Regions from separate parts of the Homo sapiens genome. Here region 2 is linked to region 1. The links come from fine-mapping of genetic effects on gene expression. Tissue or cell type: sun-exposed skin. Region 1 holds a variant in brackets; the other region holds the start of a gene. All regions are shown on one strand. Distances are from middle to middle.

Region 1 (8,000 bases):
GACTCCTGGGTCTGAGGGAGGAGAGGCTGGGGGTCCAGACTCCTGGGTCTGAGGGAGGAGGGGCTGGGGGCCTGGACTCCTGGGTCTGAGGGAGGAGGGGCTGGGCCTGGACTCCTGGGTCTGAGGGAGGAGGTGCTGGGGCCTGGATTCCTGGGTCTGAGGGAGGAGGGGCTGGGGCCTGGACTCCTGGGTCTGAGGGAGGAGGGGCTGGGGGTCCAGATTCCTGGGTCTGAGGGAGGAGGGGCTGGGGGCCTGGACTCCTGGGTCTGAGGGAGGAGAGGCTGGGGGTCCAGACTCCTGGGTCTGAGGGAGGAGGGGCTGGGGGCCTGGACTCCTGGGTCTGAGGGAGGAGGGGCTGGGCCTGGACTCCTGGGTCTGAGGGAGGAGGTGCTGGGGCCTGGATTCCTGGGTCTGAGGGAGGAGGGGCTGGGGCCTGGACTCCTGGGTCTGAGGGAGGAGGGGCTGGGGGTCCAGACTCCTGGGTCTGAGGGAGGAGGGGCTGGGGGCCTGGACTCCTGGGTCTGAGGGAGGAGAGGCTGGGGGTCCAGACTCCTGGGTCTGAGGGAGGAGGGGCTGGGGGCCTGGACTCCTGGGTCTGAGGGAGGAGGGGCTGGGGTCCTGCAGTCCTCGGTCTCAGCAGGAAGGGACCAGAAGTCGACTTCTAGATCATTTCTCTCCCTAGGTGTTCCAGGCTGGTGATGTGCCTTCGGAACGCCCATTCTATCCCCCAACCTTGGTCTCCAACCTGCCCCCAGCCTCCCCATGTGCCCAGGTGGAGGTGAGACCCTTAAGGCTGCAGAGCTCCTACCCACCGCCAGCCAAGGGCAGCAGCTCTGTGCCTGGGGAAGCCCTTGGGGTAACCATGTGACCTGGGCGTGGGGGCTGCTGCCTGCTCTAGGCTCCTTCCCTGGTGGGTGGGCCCTGGAGGGCTGAGCCTCCCGGTCACCCCTTGCAGGTGCCGTGGCCTGTGGTCGTGGCCTCCCCCTTCCGCACAGCCAAGGAGGCACTGTTGGTGGCCAACGGGACGCCCCGCGGGGGCAGCGCCAGTGTGTGGAGCGAGAGGCTGGGGCAGGCGCTGGAGCTGGGCTATGGGTCAGTCTGCGTGGCCCGGGCGCTCACTCCTCTCCTCATTCTTCCATCTTCATCTCCCTTCTCCCTGGGTCGCTCCCCGCGCCTTTAACTCACCCCTCTCCCGGCCTGCCACCGTCTGTTTTCCTCTGTTGGACACCTTCATCTTCCCCACAGGCTCCAGGTGGGCACTGTCTGGATCAACGCCCACGGCCTCAGAGACCCTTCGGTGCCCACAGGCGGCTGCAAGGAGAGTGGGTGTTCCTGGCACGGGGGCCCAGACGTGAGTACATCCCCTCCCCGTCACCAGCCCCCCCGCCGCCCCATGCCCTTGACACTCGCATCCGGCCTCGCGTGCCCCTTGCATCCTCTTGACACCGTCCCTCTCACAGGGGCTGTATGAGTATCTGCGGCCCTCAGGGACCCCTGCCCGGCTGTCCTGCCTCTCCAAGAACCTGAACTATGACACCTTTGGCCTCGCTGTTCCCTCAACCCTGCCGGCTGGGCCTGAAATAGGGCCCAGGTGAGTCGTTGGGGGCCAGTGGTCTGGGAGTGTGAACGGGGAGAGGGGAATTGATGCCTGTTTCCCCGTGGACTGGAGGGCTGGCGCGAGGTCCATCCAAACCATCTCTTAGTCCTGCTGAGTACCACGTTGTGGCCTCACACTTTCCCTACCCCAGGCCTGCCGAGACTCTCAGCTCTGCCCCATGAATGTCTGTACTCTCCCAGAAACTCATGGGTCTAGGAGCTTGGGGTCCCCCAGAGGTTCACTGGAGCAGAAGCTTGGGGTCCCTCAGAGGCTCATGGGAGCAGGAGCTTGGGGTCCCCCAGAGGCTCATGGGAGCAGAAACTTGGGGTCCTCCAGAGGCTCATGGGAGCAGGAGTTTGAGGTCCCCCCAGAGACTCAAGGGAGCAGTTTAGGGTCTACCAGAGGCTCATGGGAGCAGGAGCTTAGGGTCCCCCAGAGGCTCATGGAGCAGGAACTTAGGGTCCTCCAGAGGCTCATGGGAGCAGAAGCTTTGGGTCCTCCGGGGCTCATGGGAACAGGAATTTGGGGTGCCCCACAGGCTTATGAGAGCAGTTTAGGGTCTGCCAGAGGCTCATGGGAGTAGGAGTTTAGGGTCCCCCAGAGGCTCATGGGAGCAGGAGTTTAGGGTACCCAGAGGCTAGTGGGAACAGGGGTTTGGGGTCCCCCAGAGGCTCATGGGAGCAGAAACTTGAGTCATCCAGAGGCTCATGGGAGCAGGAATTTGGGGTTCCCCAGAGGCTCATGGGAGCAGTTTAAGGTCCCCCAGAGGCTCATGGGAGCTGGAGTTTAGGGTCCCCCAGTGAATCATGGGAGCAGGAGTTTTAGGGTCCCCCAGAGGCTCATGGGAACAGGGGTTTGGGGTGCCCCAGAGGCTCACGGGAGCCAAGGCAGTCTTCCCAGTGCGGTAGAGCATAGGGTCTGAGCAGATTGAGGCCCCAGGACTCCTCCTCATGTCCCACCCTACTCCAGCCCAGCACCCCCCTATGGGCTCTTCGTTGGGGGCCGTTTCCAGGCTCCTGGGGCCCGAAGCTCCAGGCCCATCCGGGATTCGTCTGGCAACCTCCATGGCTACGTGGCTGAGGGTGGAGCCAAGGACATCCGAGGTGCTGTGGAGGCCGCTCACCAGGCTTTCCCTGGGTAAGGGGTCACACGGGAAAGCCCAAGGGTCATGGTGTGGCAGAGAGGGGAGCCTGCCCACAGCAATTGGTGGACTGGGAGGCTGGGCCCCCAGGGTAGGGGCTGTGGACAGAGGTGGGGTGTCAGGAGAGCCAAGACCAGGATGCCAACCCCCACTGTGCGCTGTCTGCCCACAGCTGGGCGGGCCAGTCCCCAGGAGCCCGGGCAGCCCTGCTGTGGGCCCTGGCGGCTGCACTGGAGCGCCGGAAGTCTACCCTGGCCTCGAGGCTGGAGAGGCAGGGAGCGGAGCTCAAGGCTGCGGAGGCGGAGGTGGAGCTGAGCGCAAGACGACTTCGGGCGTGGGGGGCCCGGGTGCAGGCCCAAGGCCACACCCTGCAGGTGAAGGGTCTGTGGGCACCTGGGCCAGCTGGGCAGGCGGGGTGGGGCTCAGACCAGAGGCTGTGAGATAACCCAGGCTTGGAATTCGGGCCCAGCCCCACCGCCTTCCACGGCAGGATCATCAGCAAGTGGCTTCACCTCTCCCTACCTCAGTTCCCTCATCTGTACAGTGAGTGGGCACACAACCCGCCTCGTAGAGTAGCGTTCGCCAGATGATGGATAGCGACCCATTCCTGGACCCTAAAATCAATTTAGTGGGCTGTTAGGCGGTTCTCACATTGCTGTAAAGAAACACCTGGGGGCGCAGTGGCTCACGCCTGTAATCCCAGTACTTCGCGAGGCTGAGGCAGGCGGATCACGAGGTCAGGAGATCGAGACCAGCCTGGGCAACAC[G/A]GTGAAACCTGGTCTCTACTAAAAATACAAAAAATTAGCTGGGTACGGTGGTGGGCACCTATAGTCCCAGCTACTTAGGAGGCTGAGGCAGGAAAATTGCTTGAACCCAGGAGGCAGTGGTTGCAGTGAGCCGAGATCGTGCCACTGCACTCCAGCCTGAGTGACAGAGTGAGACCTTGTGTCACAAAAAAAAACAAAAAACAAAAAATACCTGGCCAGACATGGTGGCTCACGCCTGTAATCCTAGCACTTTGGGAGGCAAAAGTGGGTGGATCGCTTGAGGCCAGGAGTTTGAAACCAGCCTGGGCAACACAGTGAAACCCTGTCTCCACAAAAAATAGATAAATTAGCTGGGCATGTTGGCACCAGTCTCCCTCTGGCACCCGGCTGGAGTGCAGTGCCACAATCATGGCTCACTGCAGCCTCAACCTCCGAGGTCCAAGTGAGCCCCCCACCTCAGCCTCCTGAGTATCTGGGATCACAGGCACACACCAGCACACATGACTGGGTGTTTTTGTATTTTTGCAGAGACAAGAGACTCGCCATGTTGCCCAGGCTGATCTTGAACTCCTAGCTTCAAGTGATCCGCCTGTCTTGACCTCCCAAAGTGCTGGGATTATAGGCGTGAGCCACTGCGCCTGGCCAGGGATTACATTTCAACATGAGATTTGGGTGGGACATCTGAACTATATCATGGGCCAAACCATATTTCTTTCTTTCTTTTTTTTTTTTTTTTGAGACAGAGTCTCGCTCTGTCGCCCAGGCTGGAGTGCAGTGGCGCAATCTCGGCTCACTGCAACCTCTGCATCCCAGGTTCACGCCATTCTCCTGCCCCAGCCTTCCGAGTGGCTGGGACTACAGGTGCCCACCACCACACCCGGCTAATTTTTTTTTTGTATATTTAGTAGAGACAGGGTTTCACCATGTTAGGATGGTCTCGATCTCCTGACCTCGTGATCCGCCCACCTTGGCCTCCCAAAGTGCTGGGATTACAGGTGTGAGCCACTACACCCGGCCTTCTTTTTTTTAAATTTTATTTTACTTTAGTTCTGGGATACATGTGCAGAACGCGCAGGCTTGTTACATAGGGATACACGTGCCATGGTGGTTTGCTGCACCTATTGACCTGCCCTCTAAGTTCCCTCCCCTTGCCTCCCACCCCCCAACACCATATTTATTTTTAACAAAAGAAAATAGACCAGGCGCAGTGGCTCACGCCTGTAATCTCAGCACTTTGCGAGGCCAAGGTGGGCAGATCACAAGGTCAAGAGATCGAGACCATCCTGGCTAACACAGTGAAACCCCGTCTCTACTAAATATACAAAAAAAAAAAATTAGCCGGGCATGGTGGCAGGTGCCTGTAGTCTCAGCTACTCAGGAGACTGAGGCAGGAGAATGGCGTGAACCCGGGAGGCGGAGGTTGCAGTGAGCCAAGATCGCACCACTGCACTCTAGCCAGGGCGACAGAGTGAGAGTCCGTCTCAAAAAAAAAAAAAAAGAAAGGCGGTTATGCAGGATGTTTCTCACCGCCCGAACCCCCGTGGAATGATTCACTTTGACCAGCGTCTGCGAAATGGCAGGGGCTTCCACAATGGTGCGGTTTGGGCCAACACCAAGTGTTGGGGAGAATGTAGAGGAACTGGATCTCTCATTTACTGCGGGCGGGGCTCCCCTGCCCCACACGTGACCCACCTGTCCCTGCAGGTAGCCGGGCTGAGAGGCCCTGTGCTGCGCCTGCGGGAGCCGCTGGGTGTGCTGGCTGTGGTGTGTCCGGACGAGTGGCCCCTGCTTGCCTTCGTGTCCCTGCTGGCTCCCGCCCTGGCCTACGGCAACACTGTGGTCATGGTGCCCAGTGCGGCCTGTCCTCTGCTGGCCCTGGAGGTCTGCCAGGTATAGCCCCCTGCCTTCCTGCCTCTCCTCCCCGTAGCCTCAGGGCAGCAGAAAAAGGCGCCCCAAAGTCGGCAGGAGCTTGTCTCTTACCCCACCCTCCGTGGTACCCATGCTGCCCCCAGCCCCAGCACCCAAACCTTCACTCCTTGGGGACCCAGTGCCCATTCTTCACCCTAGGCCTGGGGCTTTCTCCTCCATGACCCCCCATCCCCTTCCCTCCCATGGGCACCCCCTGAATGCCCACTCCTTGCCCTGCCCCCACGGCCTCCCCAACCTTTCACTCTCTCTATCCCCTAGGACATGGCCACCGTGTTCCCAGCAGGCCTGGCCAACGTGGTGACAGGAGACCGGGACCATCTGACCCGCTGCCTGGCCTTGCACCAAGACGTCCAGGCCATGTGGTATTTCGGATCAGCCCAGGTGCTCTTTGTTCTGTTTTGCCATCTTCAGCATCTCAAACTTCAAACAGGCTCCTCCTTTTCTGGAAACACAGCCCCGCCCTCTTAGAACTCCTGTTGGTAAGGGGAGAAACTCCTTGACAAGAAGGTTTTGAGGCCCCGCCCTTAGGACTCAAGTTACTAAGGAAGAGGCTGTCCTTAGCAACAGGGGCCTGAGAGCTGCCTAGCCCAAAGACCTCGTCTCAGGGGACAGCCCGTTGCTAAGGACCACACCCTAGATTTGGAGGCCCACAGTCTACGCTTTGTTTTTCTATTTTGAGACAGAACCTCACCCTGTCACCCAGATGCAATCATACCTCACTGCAGCCGCAACCTCCCAGGCTCAAGCCACCGTCCCACCTCAGCTTCCTGAGTAGCTGGGACCACAGGCGTGCACCACCATGCCCAGCTAATTTTTTTCTTTTGCAGAGACTGGGGTTTCTCTATGTTGGCCAGGCTGATCTTGAACTCCTGGGCTCAAGTGATCTGCCCGCCTCGGCCTCTCAAAGTGCTGGGATTACAGGTGTGAGCCAGCACAACTGGTTGAGTCTACTGTTTTTTTTTTTATTTTATTTTATTTTATTTTATTTTTTTTGAGACAGAGTCTCACTCTGTCGCCCAGGCTGGAATACAGTGGCACGATCTTGGCTCACTGCAACCTCTGCCTCCCGGGTTCAAGTGATTCTCCTGCCTCCCAAGTAGCTGAGACTACAGGCACTCACCGCCATGCCCAGCTAATTGTTGGGGGTTTTTTTTTAGTAGAGATGGGGTTTCGCCATATTGGCCAGGCTGGTCTCGAACTCCTGACCTCGCGTGATCTGCCTGCCTCAGCCTCCCAAAATGCTGAGATTACAGGCGTGAGCCACTGTGCCCAACCAATTTTTACTTTTTAAATGGAGACGGGGTCTCGCCATATTGTCCAGGCTGGTCTCAAACTCCTGAACTCAAGCGATCCTCCCGCCTCAGCCACCCCAAGTGCTGGGATTACAGGAGCGAGTCACCGCGCCCCACCGTCCACTCTCTTAAACCTCCTGTTGGTAACAGATGTGAACTTGTTGACAAGAGCCTTGGGGCCCATTCCTTTCAACATGGGCTGTTAAGGGAGAGGAAATTCCCTAACCACTGGGTCCAGTGCTTTTCCCTACCATCTGGAAGTTCTGCTTGGGAGGAGCTGGGCATTGTAGCTGCAGAGCCTGGGTCCAGCCTGAAGCCCCTCGTCAGTAACAGTCTTCATCGCGGAGGAAGCAGGTGCTCAGCAACAAGCCTGCAGAAGTGCTTACCCCCGTCTCTTCCTCCCCTCAGGGTTCCCAGTTTGTCGAGTGGGCCTCGGCAGGAAACCTCAAACCGGTGTGGGCGAGCAGGGGCTGCCCGCGGGCCTGGGACCAGGAGGCCGAGGGGGCAGGCCCAGAGCTGGGGCTGCGAGTGGCGCGGACCAAGGCCCTGTGGCTGCCTATGGGGGACTGATGCCTGAGCGCCACCTACTGCATTTTGGACACCTCACACCAAGGGGAGATGCACCCCACAGACACCTGGGACTTTCCCCTTCTGGTTCCTGTGTCTCCCAATAAACTCTCTGACCAACCCTAGCTGTGCTTCTGCGAGAAGAAAGGGTGTAGCAACTTCTGGCAGATATGAGGCTTTTTTCTTTTTTTTTTTTTTTTTTGAGACAACGTCTGGCTCTGTCACCCAGGCTGGAGCGCAGTGGCACAATCTCGGCCCACTGCAGCCTCGACCTCTGGGGCTCAAGGGATCCTCATGCCTCAGCCTCATATGTAGCTGGGGCCACAGACATGCACCACCACACCTGGCTCGAGGCCATTTTAGTTCTGAGGTTGAGCAGCTCAGGAGCCGGCTCCAGCACGGTGCTGTGTTTGTGAAACAGAGAAAGGGGACCCCCGAGGACCCCAGACAGGGCCTTAGGACTCTCATATCTTCTTGTCTTCTCCATCTGGTGGCTCTTGCTCTCTGGTTTTCTCTACCTTTTCATGGCCCCAGAATCCATATGCAGTAAAGGAACTCTCTGGAATAAAATTAAAGTCCTCCTATATGACTTTTGTCAATTTCCATGATGTAAATGCTCCCACCGTGCCGGATTTCAAGGTACAGGTGATTAAACAACTGCCTGCGAGATCCTGAATTGTTAACAGGTCAGCTCCCATGAGCCAATA
Region 2 (8,000 bases), 25 kb before region 1:
ACCCAGAGAGAGGGAGAGAGAATAACAAGGGAGCAGAGACCCAGAGAGAGAAGGGGACAGAGACCCAGAGATACAGGGGGACAGAGACCCAGAGACATAGTGGGACAGAGACCCAGAAAGAGGGGGACAGAGACCCAGAGAGAAAGGGAGACAGAGACCCAGAGAGAGAGGAACAGAGACCCAGATAGAGAGGGGGACAGAGACCCAGAGAGAGGGAGAGAGAATAACAGGGGAGCAGAGACCCAGAGAGAGAGGGGGACAGAGACCCAGAGATACAGCGGGACAGAGACCCAGAGACATAGCGGGCCAGAGACCCAGAAAGAGGGGGACAGAGACCCAGAGAGAAAGGGAGACAGAGACCCAGAGAGAGAGGAACAGAGACCCAGATAGAGAGGGGGACAGAGACCCAGAGATGGAGGGGTCAGAGACACAGAGGATGACAGAGACCCAGAGAGAGGGAGACAGAGACCCAGAGAGAGGGGGAGAGAGACCTAGAAATAGGGGGACAGAGACCCAGAGAGGGAAGAGATGGAAACCTAGAGAAGGAAGCAGACAGAGTCCCAAAGAGAGGCGGGGACAGAAACCCAGGAGATAGAACATAGATGCAGAGAGATGAGAACAGAGATCCAGAATGCAAGAGAAAGATGGAGAGCCTGGGAGACGGAGGATAGACAGGCTGGGGACGTGATTTGTGAGGTGCAGCCCCTCTCTGAGGTGGGTAGGCAGCCAGGGGATCGGGCTGGATCCCAGGAAGGGGCTGGAACAGATGGAGGCGAGGGAGACTGGGACGGGGGAGGAAGGAACAGCCAGACGGTCCAGGGGGAGGGAGGTGGAAGAGCTGTGAGAACACAGCAACCCCTCCCCATCCTAGAACTTAAGGAGGTGGGGAGGGGCAGTTAAGAAACAGGGGTGGGAGAAGCCAGGGAGTGGACAGAACCCAGAAGGAGTAGGAATGAGACCCCAAGAGGAAGAAGACAGAGAGCCAGAGATAGGGGGGATTGAAGCCACTAGGACGAATAGTACAGGATGGCAGTAACTCCCCCCACCCATCAGAACCCATCACCCAAAGAGATTAGACTGACCCAGGTTGACATCGGATGATATTTGACCCTGAAACTCAAGATGTGATTGCAGCCCCTGATGTGAGATTCCTTGTTAATATGAGGAGATGTCAGATCTCTAATCAAGGCTGTCTAAACAGGGGGTCTCAGTATCCCACATCTATAAAATGGGACAAGGGCAAAAATGCAAGAGAATAAAGAGGGAACTTCAAGGTGATATCAATCATTTTAGAGCAAGAGGACCAAGGACACAGAGATGAAGGTGGCCCTGATGCTTTGCAGGGGACAAGGACAGAGAAGGGAGACCCTAGATGTAAATCCCCCTCCCCTCCCTGGATACCCCAAACTCAGGCCTGGGGACTTGGCGATGAGGAAAAACAACACTTAGGAGGCCATTACCCCAAATTGAGATGTCTCAACTTCTCTGTCTCTCCCTCTCTCTCTCTCTGCTTCTCTCAGGATCTCTGTCCACTCCCCCACGTCTTTGTCTCCTTATGTCCCTCTGCTCTCTCTTCTCTTCCCATTGTACAACTAAGGAAACTGAGGCTCGGGGAGCTGAAGTGGCACTCCAAGGTCACAGACAAGAACAGCAATGGGACCTGATCCCTTACTGGCCCTCGGCATCCCCCTGCCCAAGACCTGGCTCTCAGAAAGGAGGCACCTTGGGTTCTCATCTCTCTGGCATCCCATTCCCCCATGTCCTTGTTCCAAGTCACCCTGGGTGCAAGGAAGCTCCCCACCAGCTGTGGCATCACTCTTCTCAAGGAAGAGCTCTGTTCTAGGCTTGGGAGGGAGACTGACCTGGGTTCAAATCATGGGGCTCATACTCATCCACTGATCTCCCCAACCCCAGAATGGAGCCTCAGTTTCCCCATCTTTGTCTAGAGGATTAAATGAGATCAACCTGTTGTCTCTAATATGGGGTATTCCCCTCTCCCTCCAACCATCAGAGCAAACCCCAGGCATTGGAAGCAAATGCTTTTCTCTGCACAAACTCCCTGCTGATGGTCCTGGCCAGAGCCCGGGGGTCTCTGGGGACCCAAGAGGTAACTCAGAGAGTGAGAGCCAGAGAGATTGACTGTGAGAAACCCTAGCACAGATGAGAAACAGAGGCAGAGACTGAGGGAGGGGCCTGAGGAATACATCCCTCCCGCTGCCACCCCCCAGCCCCCTCCACCAGCACGTCTCTTTCTCTCTCTCTCATTCTCCTGACTTCACACTGATGTATTTTGAGAAACTCGTGAAAGGAGGCGAGAAAAAGGGTGGGGAGGGGCTGGAAAATTGGAAAAAGAAGGGGTGAGGTTATCTCAGCTTCCCCTCCACCACCAACCTCCGTCACTGCACCATCCTCCTGCCCACCTCCCCCCACTTCTGTCCAGCCTTATTCTTGTCTCTCATGTTACTAGAGGGTGGGGTAACTTTGGAGCTAAGAGGTGATCTGCAGCAAGCAAGACTGATGTTAGACTTAGCAAAGGACCCCCATGGCCTAGCGAGGTGGACTGAAGCTCAGCGAAACACAGGGTCAGGGCTGTGGGCCAAGGGGACAGGGCCTGAGGGCACGGCGGCAGGGGCATGGTGCTGATGAGGCCATCTCCTTCGTGCACTGTGGCCAGATATATTTTTAGGCTTTTCCGCAGCTGAGTAATTTATCTGACTTAGAGCCAAAGCTGGGGTTGGGGGTGAGAGCCTGTGGGGAGGTGTCCAGATTATCCTGAGGGACACTCGGTTCACTGGGGTCATCAACCTGGTTGGGAGGGAGTCCCTGTCAGCCCCAGCCTGTATCCTTTGGGAAGGCTGTCCTACCCCAGGAGCCGAAATTTTTGGCCTCTAACTCCTTTCTCTCCCAGGGACCCAGGGTGCTGTGACTTCTTCCACCCAGCCTCACCCCCTCAAGGACAACGGGCTATGAGCCCCAATCCGCTTTAGCTGCAGATTAAACTCCATGCCAGACAGAAACGGAAAAAGACACAGAGAGACGGAGAGACCCATGGTGGGAGAATTAAAACACAGAGACGGGGACAGGGACCCAGAGAAGTGGGGACCAGAGATCCAGGGAAGAGGAGAGACCCAGAAAGAGGGGGACAGAGACTCTGAGTCAGGAGTTGATAGAGATCCAGTGAGAGCAATGGCCAGAGAACCAGAGAGAGGGGCACAGAGACGCAAAGAAGCGGAGGCAGAGATCTAGGGAGAAGGAGGGGCCCAGAGAGAAGGGAGCCGAGATCTGGAAAAAGAGGGAGACGGAGACCCAGAGAGAAAAGGGGCAGAGACATCCAGAAAGAGACGGGGACAGAGACCCAGAAGTGGTGGGGGAGGAGCCAGAGACCCGGGAGAGAGGCATTTACAGCACCAGAGAGAGTGGAGCCGGGTGGGGTGGGGTGCAGAAAAAGGAACAGGATAATGGACAAGGCTCGACCAGGGAGAACAGCGCCGTCGGAGCCCACGGCAGAAAACTGGACAGATGGGTGGACCCCCATGCCGGGGTATCGCCCGTTCATCTGTCAGTCTGCGCCCAGGTGGGAATTAGCATCCTCCTCAGATCCTCCCACTCTTCTCCCGGGACCCCCGCCAGGCTCACCGGTGCAGCTTCCCGAGAGCACGACCCGCTAGCTTCCGAAACTCCTCCTGGCGGAACTCCATGGTGGCGGCTCCTGCCGCCGGTCACCCCGCGGGTCCCCCCCGCCGATCCCCCCGCCCGCGGGCCCGGGCGGCCGCGTCCGGGTTCCCGGGGTCCAGCCCCGGCCCGGCCGGCCCCGCAGCTCCGCTCGGGGGGAAGGAGGCTGCAAGTGCAGGCGGCCCGGGGGCTGTCACAGGACTCAGCGCCGGGGGCGGGGCGCGGGAGGCCCCGCCCCGGCCCCACCAGGCCCCTCCCCTCGTCTGTCAGACCCGCCCCCTCTCGCAGCCCTTTCATCCTCGTCCTGTCCCCTCCTGAGCCTTCCAAGACCACGCCTGTGGGTTCTGAACTCACGCCTCCGAGTTCACGCCCCCCAATTCTGTTCCTTCCCCAGGCTACTCCCCCTATCCCTGTTCCATCACCCCTGGCTCCTACCCAGATTTTCTCTCCTCTCCTGAGTTCTCATCCCCATCATTTCTCTCCCCGACTTCTGTTCCCCCTAATTGCGTCCCTTACAATCCTGTCTTCTCTGACTTTCCCTCTGCGTTCATCCTCCAGTTCCTTCACTCCTCCCCGCCCCCACCCCGCAATTCCATCCCCATCCCACCTCGTCCCCAGTTCCAATAGTCTCATCCAGGGAGTTCTTTGTTTTCTCATTCAAGGGAAATTCTTTCCCCTCAAGTCCAACGCCTACTTCGATCCACCTGTCGTCCCCCTCTAGTCCCTTTCGCCACCCGGGTTCTTCACCCTTGAGCTCCATCTCCTCCTTAGTTTCCATCTTTCCCCTTTGAATCCCATACTCCTCCAGCTCTATTCTCCCTCCGGCGTCTCTCTCCTCCCTGTTGCTTCTCTCCCTGAGTTTCATTCCCTAACCCCGATTTTCTTCCCTCTGGCTTCCGCCCCCCACAGTTATATTTCACACACCCCGCCAGTGCCAGCTGCGACCCCATAGTCTCCCCATTGTGTTATTTCTCTGCTCCTCTGGGATCTGTCCGCGCTCTGAGTTCTTCCCTAGCTCCGGGGGATCCATTCCTCTATTTGAGTTCTGTCTCCACCCCCTGAGATCTGTCCCGCCCCCTAAATTGTGATCCGCACCCCCTGGCATCCTCACCCGCCCTCTGAATTTGTCTCCTCCCCTAGGATCTGTCGCTGACCTGAGTTCTGCCCCCGCCCTCTGAGTTCTCTCCCCACCGTTGGAGTTGTGTCCCCTTCTCCTAGGATCTGTCCCTGGCTCTGTTCCCGCCCTCTCAGTTCTGTCCTTGCCCCCTGGAATCTGTTCCTGCCATCTGAGTTCTACCCCTTCCCCACAGGATCTATCTCTGCCCCCTGGAATCTGTCCCCACCCACCGAGTTCTGGCCTCCGTCCCTGGGATCTGTCCCCGCCCTCTGTGTTCTACCCCTGCCCCATGGGATCTGTCCCCGCCCACCCAGTTCTCCCCGCCCCCTGGATCTCTCCCTACCCTCCCAGTCTTGCCCCGGCCCCATGGGATCTGTCCCCGCCCTCCGACTTCTGACCCTCGCCACTGGGATCTGTCCTCGACCTCCCAGTCCTGCCTCCGCCCCCGGAATCTGACCCCGCCCACCGAGCTCTGGCCTCCGCCCCTGAGATCTGTCCCCGCCCTCCCAGTCTTGCCCCTGCCCCATGGGATCTGTCCCCCGCCCACCGCCTCCGCCTCTGGGATCTGTCCCTGCCCTCCCAGTCCTGCTCCCACCCCCGGAATCTGTCCCCGCCCACCGAACTCTGTCTCCACGCCGGAATTCCAGCGCCGCCCCGTTGGGTAGAGCCCGGCCCTTCCCTGTCCTGGGCCCGCAGACAGGGTCCCGCCCCGCTCCTGTCCTCAGACCAGCCCATCTCCCGGCGCTGAGTCCACCTCCAGATCCAGGCCCCAGGAGGGTGATCCTTTCCCCACTACCTCCCCGCGTCGGGCCGCAAATGCATTTGGTATTAAATTTTCATGATGCGGCCCGCGGTGGGGTGGGAGGAGCAGACGGCGCGTCGGGCGGGCGCCAAGGACGGGGTGGCCGGGAAGCCACTGACCGCCGCAGCCTCTCGCTTCCAGCCTTGACTGGCTGTGTCTCTGGGTCTCACAGCTTTGAGAAACCCCTGGGACCCCAGAACGGAGGACGCTGCGGGTCTGAGGCAGGAGGGAGGTAGGAACTGGGACTCGTGGGGCTGAAGTAGCAGCGCGGGAGCCGCTCACACGCGCCACCCAGTGGCTGCAGAGTCCCCGGCCCGGGTGCGGAGGCGGTGGTTGCGGCTTGGGGCCAGGTGTGAGGGTGGAGCAGATGGTGAAGAGGAGGGAGTGGGAAGCGGGCCCCGCCGCTGCCAAAACTTGGGCCTTTGCCGAAACCATCGCCATGGAAACCGAGGAAGGAGGAAAGGACTCAGCCGCACACTTTTTCAGGACCTGGGAATGAGTTACTCGGCCCCCTCCAGCGGCTCACCGTCCCAACCACAAGTCCCAGCGGCCTCTGAGCCTCAGCGCTCGTTTGAGAAGGGCCGCGCACTCCGAGGGCCGCTGGGAGATGTAGTTCTCTGAGACGATGGGCAGGGAAAGGTTGCGCCCTCTGGTGGACACGGCGCCCACGTTCGCTCATCCGTTCCGCGGCCGGAAAGACCCTACCTGAAGTCACTCCCACCCTGACCTCTTCCCCGTCTTTTCTCCCCCTCCCTCACAATTCACCCCATTGCAGACACATTGTGCTTGCCTGCCTGCCTTTTCTTTCCTTCCTTCCTCTTCTTTCTCTTCTTTTTTCTTTCCTTCCTTCATTCCTTCTTTCTCTGTCTTCCTTCCTTTCCCCTTCCTCCTTCCTTTTTCTTTTTTTCTTTCCTTCCTTCATTCCTTCTTTCTCTGTCTTCCTTCCTTTCCCCTTCCTCCTTCCTTTTTCTTTCTCTTCTTTTTTCTTTCCTTCCTTCATTCCTTCTTTCTCTGTCTTCCTTCCTTTCCCCTTCCTCCTTCCTTTTTCTTTCTCTTCTTTTTCCTTCTTTCTTCCTTCTTTCCTTCCTTCCTCCTTTCCTTCCTCCCTTCCTTCCTTTTTGAGACAGGGTCTCACTCTGTCGCCCAGGGGCAGCTCACTGCAGTCTTAACCTCCCTGGGCTCCCACCTCAGCCTCCCGAGTAGCTGAGGACAACAGGTGTGCACCACCATGCCCCACTAACTCACATTGTGCTTTGAGCATTTACCACTGAAGTTCCTCCATCTACTGATGATCCTAGGATTCACTAAAGAAGAGGAGGGTATAGACCATCACTTTTTTTTTTTTTTTTTTTTTTTTGAGATGGAGTTTCGTTCTTGTTGCCCAGGCTGGAGTGCAATGGCGCCATCTGGGCTCACAGCAACCTCCGCCTCCTGGGTTCAAGCAATTCTCCTGCCTCAGCCTCCCTAGTAGCTGGGATTATAGGCGCTTGCCACCACGCCAGGCTAATTTTGTATTTTTAGTAAGAGACGGGGTTTCTCCATGTTGGTCAGGCTGGTCTCAAACTCCCGACCTTGGGTGATCCGCCCGCCTTGGCCTCCCAAAGTTCTGGGACTACAGGTGTGAGCCACTGTGCCCGGCCTCAACAATCACTTATTAACTCAAGAAATATTTATCAAGGCAGGGCGCTCCTGTAATCCCAGCACTTTGAGAGGCTGAGGAGGGCTGATCACTTGAGCTCAGGAGTTCGAGACCAGCCTGGGCAACAGATGGAGACCCCGTCTCTATAAAAAATATTTAAAAATTAGCTGGGCATGGTGGCACCTGTAGTCACAGCTACTTGGGAGGCTGAGGTGCAACCATCACTTGAACTCGGGAGGTTGCAGAGTGAGTCAGGATTGCACCACTGCACTCCAGCGTGGGCCTAAGAGCCAGACTCTGTCAAAAAAAAAAAGAAAGAAAGAAAGAGAGAGAGAAAGGAAGGAAGGAAGGAAGGAAAAGAAAGAAAGAATAAAGAAAGAAACTTCTGCAGATGTACTGGGAAGAGGATACAAAGTAGCAGGAACAGCAGAAACTAAGAGATGAGGGAAAATGGGTGTGGTCAGGACACTGTTCAGTATGACTGGGCTCCAGTTAGAGGAAGAGGTCAAAACTAGGCTGGGCACAGTGGCTCACGCCTGTAATCCCAGTATTTGGGGAGGCCATGGTGGGAGGATCACTTGAGGCCAAGAACTCAAGACCAACCTGGGCAACATAGCAAGACCTCATCTCTAAAAAAATGCAAAAAATAAAATTAGCTGGGCACAATGGTGCATGCCTGTCATCCTAGCTACTCAGAGGCTGATGTGGGAGGATCACTCGAACCCAGGAGTTCCAGGCTGCAGTGAGCTACATGATTGCACCACTGCACT

The links. PIP is the estimated chance that this variant, and not a neighbour inherited with it, causes the effect.
Region 2: SLC17A7 starts here. The variant in region 1 is fine-mapped to the expression of SLC17A7 in sun-exposed skin (GTEx, PIP 0.93).

Annotation. Positions count from the first base shown.
Region 1 is chr19:49,463,172-49,471,171 of GRCh38, forward strand. ALDH16A1 (aldehyde dehydrogenase 16 family member A1) reads left to right here. Exons shown (of 17, transcript NM_153329.4): 9 at 683-778; 10 at 956-1,092; 11 at 1,246-1,351; 12 at 1,461-1,591; 13 at 2,567-2,734; 14 at 2,911-3,112; 15 at 5,210-5,395; 16 at 5,693-5,815; 17 at 7,135-7,879. The coding sequence ends at 7,296. Among named protein-coding and RNA genes, the nearest start is that of FLT3LG, 7.0 kb to the right of the region's middle. RefSeq lists an enhancer at 5,663-5,862 and a silencer at 6,283-6,332. The variant G/A (reference allele first, on the strand shown) is at 3,506.
Region 2 is chr19:49,437,682-49,445,681 of GRCh38, forward strand. It overlaps SLC17A7 (solute carrier family 17 member 7), which reads right to left and starts at 3,846. Exons shown (of 12, transcript NM_020309.4): 1 at 3,637-3,846. The coding sequence starts at 3,698. RefSeq lists an enhancer at 6,140-6,249.